Homo sapiens: one gene and its partners. The protein of the gene in region 2 purifies or fractionates together with the protein of the main gene of each other region. This does not show direct contact. Each region holds a gene or a part of one and is shown on either strand. Other genes may lie near its edges.

What was found.
Region 1: the proteins of SLC30A7 (region 2) and SETD9 purify together in Homo sapiens (affinity purification with mass spectrometry; one large-scale study listed by BioGRID and IntAct). This does not show direct contact.
Region 3: the proteins of SLC30A7 (region 2) and SNX14 purify together in Homo sapiens (affinity purification with mass spectrometry; one large-scale study listed by BioGRID and IntAct). This does not show direct contact.

The regions. Positions count from the first base shown.
Region 1 is NC_000005.10:56,915,112-56,917,900, forward strand, and holds the end of SETD9 (SET domain-containing protein 9), read left to right. Parts: intron 1-1,703; coding exon 1,704-1,791; 3' UTR 1,792-2,237; downstream 2,238-2,789.
Region 2 is NC_000001.11:100,902,523-100,906,184, forward strand, and holds part of SLC30A7 (zinc transporter 7), read left to right. Parts: intron 1-3,662. UniProt on the Homo sapiens protein: Zinc ion transporter mediating zinc entry from the cytosol into the lumen of organelles along the secretory pathway.
Region 3 is NC_000006.12:85,506,837-85,510,498, forward strand, and holds part of SNX14 (sorting nexin-14), read right to left. Parts: intron 1,981-3,662; coding exon of another isoform or gene 1,934-1,980; exon of another isoform or gene 1,484-1,933; intron 1,478-1,483; coding exon of another isoform or gene 1,440-1,477; exon of another isoform or gene 1,224-1,439; coding exon 1,132-1,223; intron 454-1,131; coding exon 397-453; intron 1-396. UniProt on the Homo sapiens protein: Plays a role in maintaining normal neuronal excitability and synaptic transmission. May be involved in several stages of intracellular trafficking. Required for autophagosome clearance, possibly by mediating the fusion of lysosomes with autophagosomes.

The DNA of each region.
Region 1 (2,789 bases), on a different chromosome or scaffold from region 2:
GTTAATGTAGGCTTATTTGAAATTTAAAATTTTCCTTTAAACTAGCTCATTCTGTTTATTTTTACCCATTTTTATTCTATGGCAATACTTCATAAGTATCCACCTTAAAGTTTTTTCAAATAATTCTGTTGTTTTTCCTACCTACAAAATCTTCAAATATATCTTTACTTTAATCATTTATAATATCATGTTCTCTACCTTATAAGAAAGCATCCAATTGAAGAAAGAGGCCAAATTACACTATGATTCCTTTGCCAATTTCACTATTAGGTTCTTAATAATGAAACTAAATAAAAAAGGACTGTATTCAGAAGACACATATTTTAACATAGCATTTATTTCCTGTTCATTCAGTGGAAAGTCTACTGAGAATATTCAAATAACAATTTTAAAATATAGGTAATTCTGGAGAGCTAAGAGTTCTTTCTTAACAGTGCTGTAGGAAGATACAATCTTTGTATTATTTTGTTGAGTTGCTAGCAAACTTTATTTTATATAGGACCTATTAAATTGTCCTTCTAAGATGAATGACATTTAAAACATGAACTATTATTTATACTTAAAACTTGAGGCCAGACACGGTACCTCAAGCCTGTAATCTCAGCACTTTGGGAGGCCAAGGTGGGTGGATTGCTTGAGCACAGGAATTCGAAACCAGCCCAGACAACATGACAAAACCCCTTCTCTACAAAAAATACAAAAATTAGCTGGGTGTGGTGGTGTGTACCTGTAGTCCCAGCTACTTGGGAAGCTGAGGTGGGAGGATCCTTGACTTGGGAGGTGTATGTTGCATTGAGCTGAGATGGCACCACTGCACTGCAGCCTGGGTGACAGAGCCAGATCCTGTCCCAAAACAGGAAAAAAACAAAAACCAAAAACTTGATAACTTTTGCTTCTCTGCATGTGTATGTTTGTGTGTTTAACTATTAGCTTTTCTTAGCCATATACTCCGGGGCATGATGTTATTAGAACTTTGAATGTATATATGTAACAATATCTAGGCTGGGTGCGGTGGCTCATGCCTGTAATCCCAGCACTTTGGGAGGCCGAGGCGGGCGGATCACAAGGTCAGGAGTTTGAGAACAGCCTGACCAACATGGTGAAACCTCATCTCTACTAAAAATACAAAAATTAGTCAGGCGTGGTGGCACGCACCTGTAATCCCAGCTACTCAGGAGGCTGAGGCAGGAGAATCGCTTGAACCCGGGAGGCAGAGGTTGCAGTGAGCCAAGGTCACACCACTGCACACCAGCCTGGGTGACAGAGTGAGATTCCATCTCAAAAAAAACAAACAATATTTTATGATGTCCAGAAAAAAGCATTTTTTTAAAACTCCAACTAATTTTAAGTAATGTTTTCATTTTTCAGGATATAAGATACAAATGAATGCAAGAAAAACTATAATGTCATTTTAAAATCCTTTTTGTGATACTAGTTTTGGGGGCCTAAACTTAGAAACAATGTTTTCAGAAGAAGTAGTCAGTTGTATAAACATTGATTTGTGATTTTTTAAATGATATAGATATACTCTTTAGAATACCTGCATCAGGAATAAGAACTATTTCCTCATGGAAATCAAATGCATAAACTAAAATGGAAGGAACCTGAGTAAAGTTACCTCTATAAAAGCCATCTTGGTTATATTAAAAATATGAGCTTATATTTGTTAATGCTCTACCTTTTGTATATCTTTTTGTTTTCAGCCCACTTCGATGTGTTGTTCTTGTCGCACTTAGGGACATCAATCAAGGAGAAGAGCTTTTTTCAAACTACTACACAATTGTCAGCTAACTCTGTGAATCAGAAATTATTAGGTTTTCTACTCAGCTATTAATTCTAAGTGTTTTTTGTTAATCACTTCTCTGAGTTCTACCTGTAAAACAAATATTTTGAGACTTAATTGGAATAGGAATTTCTTATGTTTTTGTTGATATTATATTTATGTTCCAATTTCATGATAAAAGCTACTTGCTTCATTACAATTTCAAATTTGTAATGCAATTCCAAGTTTAATTGGTTTTCACCTAAATACACAATAGCTTATTAAATTAAAACCTACTCTTTGAACTTATAATTTCAATTTTTCTTTTGTTTATTTTGTAAGCTCTGTGGTGGTTTATAAAATTGTAGCCAGGCATCAGCAGTTCTTGTAGTACTGCTGATGTGTACAAACTTCTGTAAAAACTTTATTTTTACAGAATTGAGTAAAAAATACCTATTGTGTTGCCATGAGTAAATTGGTGTGTCTATGTATAATGTAAAGATTGCTCTAGCTGGCTGAGGGGAAAATGTGAGGTCATTATTACTATTTTCTTTACTCTTTGAACATTTTCACACCAAAGAAAAGGTGGAAAAAAAGTGCAAGATAGTGTTGGTGGGAGGAACACTTATTCCCCGTGTCTCATGTCTTCATGTGGAGGGCTTCCACTGGTTAATGTTCCTAGCCTCTCTCTCCACCCACTGGAGGGAGATTGACTCCCTGATTATGTTTGGAGAATAACTAGGCACCCATGTCCTATATACCCTTCTAGTTCCTTCCCTGTGGACTCTGGCTGCCAGCAGAAAGAATGTGTCCTGGCAGTTCTCTGCCTTGTGCAGAGAATAGCCTGTAGCCAGCCCAGCCAGTGACAGAGTGAGTCCAGAGGTGTAATATATTGGCAGGCCAACCTGGCTGCAGCCCTGAAGCTACCTTCCCGTTTTATTAGCAATAGTTACTTTGACCTCCATCGACCTGACTCCAGCTCTCTCAGTTCCAAACTTGGATAGGAAGGAGGGTGTTCTTTACTGGA
Region 2 (3,662 bases):
AGGTGGCTTAAACCACAGAAATTTATTGTCTCACAGTTCTGGAGATTAGAAGTCAGAGATCAAAGTGTCATCAGGGTTGATTTCTTCTGAGAGCTCTGAGGAAGAATCTGTTCCATGATCTTTCTGTAGCTTCAGTTGGTTTTCTAGTAATCTTGGACAGTCTTTGGCTTGTAGGAGCATCACCTGATCTCTGCCTTATCTTCGCATTGTGATCTATGTATCTTCTTCCAAATTTCTCTTTTTTATAAGGACACTGGATGAGGGCTCACCTTAATGACCTAATATTAACTAATTATATCTGCAATGAGTCCATTTCTAATAAAGTCACGTTCTCAGGTACTAGAGGTTAGGACTTCAACATATGAATTTGGGCGCAGGAACACAATTCAACCCATGACAGTGTTTTACTAAATAATAGTGAAATAGATAGTAAAATATAGATCAATAAATCAGTAAATGTTTGTTTATATTTATTTACAATGAATGCCCTGCCTTCTAAAACTGATTACAGTAATTTAAAATAAAAGCTATATATACTAATAAAACACATTAAGAAATAAAAACATTTAGAAACCATACCTAGGGAGGAAAAAATTAATCTATTAAATATATAGTCTAATTTAGCTCCCAAAATTGACTTTTAAATTTAGTTATAAAATTCCATAAAGTGAACACAACTCTATCATTTTATCAGAGTAGAAAGACAGTTTTCTGAAATCAAATTTTAACAGTATTTTGCCATATTAATCTTTTCTTGGGGGATCGAAAACAAAATCATAGACAATGTCTTTATTAATGGTTTTATCACAGTATAGAGAAATTCTTCACATGAGTCTTTCATACTTCAAAATAAAGTTAAATCATTATTTTCCATGTTACATAGATGTTATGGTTCAAGTGTGTAATTTTCGGTAATCTAACTATACAAGGACAAATCTTAAAATATTAAATCTAAGAGAATTGCATGAATAATATGCCCCTTACCTTGTCCTCATGTATCAGTTTTATTATTCTGCTTTATCATTTATTCACCAATTCTCATTCTGCTTTGAGTTAGATGTCAGATGAGATGGTTAAAGTACTATCTGCACTTAAACTTTCTAATATATCTATATTTCAGTGGAATAAATAAGGTTCATGATAAAAGTTTAAGACATTTTCTAAAATCTTTTGTAATGATTTGGCAGAGGTTTATAAATTATTGTGCTTTTTCTTGTTGGTAAATGATGTGCTTTGACTTAGTTTCTAATTATATAATTATTCCAAATTATGAGAAAAATTTAAAACCATGCTTTTTCTGTATGTGTGAAGAATGTTTTTGACTTTTAGTTTGTAGCACTTCCAACTGATGAAAACTCTAGCATCTAGCCAAATATTAAGAGGTATGGGTTGTGCTTGGGAACACCAGGTATTATAAGCATTAATAATAGTTAATAATTAATAATGTGATTTATTAATAATTAGCAATAGGAATATTAATGTGGTTTTAATGTGACAAGCATTGTGGTAAATGTTTCATATATATTAACTCAATTATTATAACAATTATGACACTTTTATACTATACTCTATTGAAGTGATGGCTAAATTGAGGCACAAAGAAGTTAAGTAACTTACTGGTCACGGAACTAGTAAATTTGGAGCTGGGATTTGAACCCAGGTACTCTGACTTCAGAAGCTTGTTTTTAAAGACTGAACTGATGATTGCTTTCAGAACATTTTTATTGACTTCTCTTCAAGTTCACGGATTTCTTTCCTCAGCTGTGTCCAGTCTGTGATAAGCCAATTGGAAGAATTCTTTATCGCTGATAACTTGTTTTTTGTTTCTAGTATTTCCATTTGATTGTTTTTTATATTTCCCACTTCTCTACCAAATTCCCCACTGGTTCATATTTTTTTGTCCACTTTTTCCATAGATCCTTTAACATATTAATTAGAGTTTATGATAGCTCCAGTATCTGGGTCAATATCTTGGTCTGGTTCTGTTAACTGCTTTCTCCACAGTGACTTCTTTTTTTTTTTGGCTCTTTGTGTATTTTGAAATTTTTTTTATCAAATATTGGACATTATGAGTAAAAAACAGTAGATACTGAGGTAATAGTATTTATGATCGGAAATAGGTATGCCTTGTCTGTCAGACCACTAGTTGGTTGGACTTTGTGCTTTTAGTAATCTCTGTATGGTGCCTGTGCCACAGAAGCTCTTTTCTTCATGCGCTTACTCCTGCCCAAGCTATAGACTGCTGTTGCTTGTTACTCAGTACCCAGTTTATGGTGAAGGCAGAGGGGTATTTGTTAACTTTAACCCAAAGCCTCTGTCTTTGGTAGATTCTGTAAGCCTCAACCTCAGGGGTATGATTTTGTCAACATTTTTACTCCTTCTCCTGTAATAGCCAAACTCTACTGTGTGTATGTTTATGGTCCTGGATGGAGACAACTTTCCTTCTCCATTCTCAGTGGTAGCAGAACGTCTGCTTTGTGTTGGTAGAGGATTTCCTTCCCTTCTTTTGGTGGCTTTTCTTAGTGGGTGCTTTAGTATGTATAATATTAATCTTTAAATTATCACAAATAATATGTCATTTCATGTATCTGATAAGAACCTTACAATAATACACTTTGATTTTCTTATTCCATTCTGTGTGCTATTATTGTCATACCTTAGGTTGTTGACAGTATTTTTTTTCTCTTTCAATACTTTAAAGGTGTTGCTCCATTGCATTCTGGCTTGAATAGTTTCTGAAGAAAAACATGCTATAAATTTTATCTTTATTTTTTTAATTTAATTTTTCTCTTTCTTCCCCTCTGGTTTTCAAAGATTTTTTTATTTCTCTTTGATGTTTAGTGGTTTGTGACGTGTGGAGGGTTTTTTCCTCGCTTGGGTTCATTAAGCTTCTTGGATCTGTGATTTATTTTCTTTTATGAATTTCAGAAAACTCTGAAACATTTTCTCTTTAAATACTTTTCCTATCCCTTTCTTTTTTTCTTTTCTGTTCCTGAGACTCTAAATACATGTATTTTAGTATGTTTGATACGTCCAGACAGGTTTGGGATGCTCTGCTTTTTTTGTTTGTCTGTTTGTTTCCACTCTCTTTTCTCTTTGTGTTGCACTTTGTTTAACTTCTTTTGACCTAACTGATTCTTTCTCTCTGTGTCCAGTCTGCTCAGAAGCCCATGACTGTTATTCCTCCATATTGTAATTTTTAAAAAATTATCATTTCCATTATATTCTTTTATAGTTTTTATCTGCAGAAATTATTCATTTGTTAATGAATTTTCTCTGACTTTATACCACATCCTTTGACATATTAATTGTATTTGTTGTTAAAGTCCTATCTAATAGTTCCAACATTGGGGCCATTTCTGGTTCTGTTGACTGTTGTAGCTCTTAACAATGAGTCTCTCTTTTTTTCTTTCTTGATTTTGTCATTGAGTGCTGGACATTCTGTTTAAAAGAATAATAGAGACTGTATATGTCCAGAAATGGGCACACCTATTTTTCTGTTTGGCCGTTAGTATGGGACTTTCGAAACTATTTGCTCAGTAGTCAAACTGGGGTTGAGCTGGGTTTTGTGTTTTGTTATTGCTGATTTCCACAAATCACAGTCTTTGAATTTTTCAGTGGTTCCTACTACTTTGTGATTAGTATTGGATTTGGAGTACTGC
Region 3 (3,662 bases), on a different chromosome or scaffold from region 2:
TTCATTTTGTGCTTGGGTTTACATAAAACTTGCTTCAAAAATACTCTAGTTTCTGACTTACACAGCATACAATGGTGCAGACGATAACACTGAGCTTGGCCTATTCTAGTGCTAGGACTTACACTCACTTCTTCCCCTGGAAAGACTATATAGGGTCCCTATCTGCTTGTAATTAAAAAGGGATGAAGTCAAAGCAGAAGCTATTCAATAGCTGTCCCCCAGAATTGTTTGGGCATGTTTAATAAAGAAAATACAAAAGGCAATTTGCTGAGGTTAATTTTTTAAAGAACCACAGAGAACAGAGACAAGGGTTTTCTTACATTTATGTCCCTAATTAAAATAAATGTCAGCATACCATTAAGAAAATCATGAATAAAATTACTGCTTTTCAGTTACCTTATTGAGCTCTGGAAACAGTTCCTGTATCACAATGTCCAATAAAACATAAGTCAGCTAAAGCACCAAAAAATAATAATAATAAATGTTAAGGCACTAAACACAAAAACCATAAAAATGATACACACAAAATTAAAGATTGTGGTTACCTCTAAGTGGGAAGGCAGGGAATGGGACTGATAATATAAAACAAGCACAAAAGTAGCCTCAGTAGTATCAATAATGTTCTATTCTCAAAATAGGTAATAAGTACACATGTGTTTGCATGAGGACACTTTCATTATGCCTCATTAATTCATTTTTATGTTAAATATTTGAATTTTTAGAAAAACAAGAACACAAAATCACAACTGTATTGAGATCTCAACAGAATATATAAAGCTTATACATAGTTTACATAAACCATAAACATAAAAATGTTAACTGGTTATTCTATGTGACTTGAATAATGGAATTATCCATTTTTAATTTTTTACTGTATTTCATGAATTTTCTATGCCAAATTTTCTACAATTACTATATATTAATTTTAAATCAAAATAATTCATCTTATTTAGAAAAAACTGAAACAAAAAGAGTAACTCAAATAAAACTTTTTTTCTATCTGAATGTTTAAAATTATATTGCCTTGGTTTAGTATAGTGTCATTTATACAACTAATGAGTTACCAGACACCTTACTACGTCGTTCACCAAACCTAGCCAGCATGAGTTTACGAGCTTTAATGAGCTTTACCTGCTTGTTGAGTACTGGTTGCTGTAAGCCATCAAACAGAAGTCTGATGCTTTCATACTTGGTTTCTTCACCAATACACTTGACTAACAGATCTAAACAAAAAGGCCAAATGTGAAATAATTTTATATTATAAAGTGACTCACCATTAACTGGATCATAAAGCAAAATCACCACCCTGTTTCCCAGATACTAGGCAAAAACTGCAAATCAATACTCCCCAAACCAGTGTTTCTATAAGAGGCTCCTGGATAAGAGGTTTCTATGGTCAAGTTGACAAATGCAGTATCATGTATCCCATTTTTGGAGATTCACAATGCACAAGGCATAATGCAAACTCTGAGAAATGCTGCAGTAAAAAAAAAAAAAAAAAAAATCTGCTAGTTGGAAAATAATACTTATTGTATTACCCCACTAAGGGAAAACAAAACAAATTAAACCCTAAAATGATGTTTGTACATCTGTACATACATGTATAGAAATGCATGGAAAAATGTAAGGATTAACACCCAATGTAGGATAAGCCGACTTCTACCCAGTGGGCAGAAGATAGCTTCTACTTTTTATTCTATATATTTTCATAGTGCTCTTAATATCAGAAAAAAAAAGTTTAATTTTTAAGGCAGACTTTTCTCAGTGAATAAGAACACCTAATTTCTGGACTTTTGCATAAGTTACTATTAACCATCTTACAAACCAATCATTTTGGGAAATATAACAAATATTTAAACACTTATTTAGGGTCCAACGAGTTCAGATTTGTGTCTGGCTGCATAGATGTCATGTACCACTGATATCAATTCTGTTACCAAGAAAAGTCAATCCTTATTAAGATCTCCACTGAATGCTTCCCTAAGCAGAAAAAAAAGAAGTTATTCTTATATAAACAAGGTACTCAAATATTTATCCTTTTTCCCCTATCATAACTAAACTCCTAGTGTTGGTCATAAAAAATTCTAATGCTAGGAGACAAAGCCAAATTTAATTTACAATAGGCATAGTACATCCTTGGTATTTTCAAGATATGTGGCCCAATACAAATCTTTGTTAATCCTCAAACTCACCAATACTACATGGAATTTCCCAATTAATATGCATGAAACTAATGAACAAATATACGTAATTCTTTCACATCCTTCAGGTGTCACTAAGTAAGAGATGAGGAGCAGAGGATAACACAAAGGAATGGTAAGCTTGCTCAAGAGCTAAGTTACTCTCCCAAACGGGAGTCTTAAAGTGAATGTGGTTTGAATTTGTGCCTCAGCAAAATAACAAATTACTATATTCTCTGGCTCTCCATGTTGTTTCTGAGTATCAAAGCTGAGACTGTTGAAAGTATGAATGCTAAGGGTCATTATATCAGAAAACAGGTAAAAAAAAATTATTTCATCATTTGCCTACAGAAAATTTACTCAAAAACAGCTTATGTTCAGTTTTATATTCAGAGCAGATATTTAAGTTAATTATTTTCACAAGGAAGAGCAGAACTATTCTAAGGCTAGTTCCTCAATATTAAGAATTCTCTAAGGTTCTGTCCTAAGACCTCCTCTTTTTAAAATAAACTTTACTTTTTAAAGTAGTTTTGTGTTCACAATGAAACTGAGCAGAAGGAAGAGATTTCGCATATGTTCCCTGTCTTGTCTCCCCGACTATCAACATCCCCAACAAGAGTGTACATTTGTTACAACTGATAACACACATTGGTACATCATTATTACCCAGAGTCCATAATTTACATTGGAGTTCGTTCTTGGTGTTGTACGTTCTGTGGGTCTGGACAAATAGATGATGATATGTAACCATCATTATAGAGTAGTTTCACTGCCCCAAAAAATCCTCTCTGCTCTGCCTATTCATCCCTCCCTCCCCTCCAATCCACTGTCTTCTTAGTTTTGCCTTTTCCAAAACAGCAGATAGTTGAAAATATACAGTATGCAGTCTTTTCAGATTGGCTTCTTTCTCTTAGTAAGATGAATTTCAGGCTCCTCCATGACTTTTCATGATGTGACAGCTCATTCCTTTATAGCACTGAATAATATCCCATTGTCTAGAAGTATGAGTTTATTTATCCATTCACCTAAATAAAGAACACCTTGGTTGCTTCCAAGTTTTGGCAATTCTGAAGTTGCTATAAACATTCATGTGCAGGTTTCTGGGTGGACATGTTTTCAACTGCTTTGGGTAAATATCAAGAAACATAATTGCCAGATCTCATGGTAAGAGTGTGCTTAGTTTTGTAAGAAACTGCTCACCTGTCTTCCAAAGTGGCTACACCATTTTGCATGCCCACCAGCAATGAATGAGAATTCCACATGTTCACCAGCAAATGGTGGTGTTGGTGTTCTGGATCTGGGCCATTCTAACAGGTGTGTGGTGGTATCTCATTGTTTTAAATGTGCATTTCCTTGATGACATATGATGTAGAACATCTTTTCATATGCTTGTGTGTAATCTTCTTTGGTAAGGTGTCAAGATATTTGGCCAATTTTAAAATCAGGTTGTTTGTGTTCTTATTGTTGAGTTTCAGGATTTCT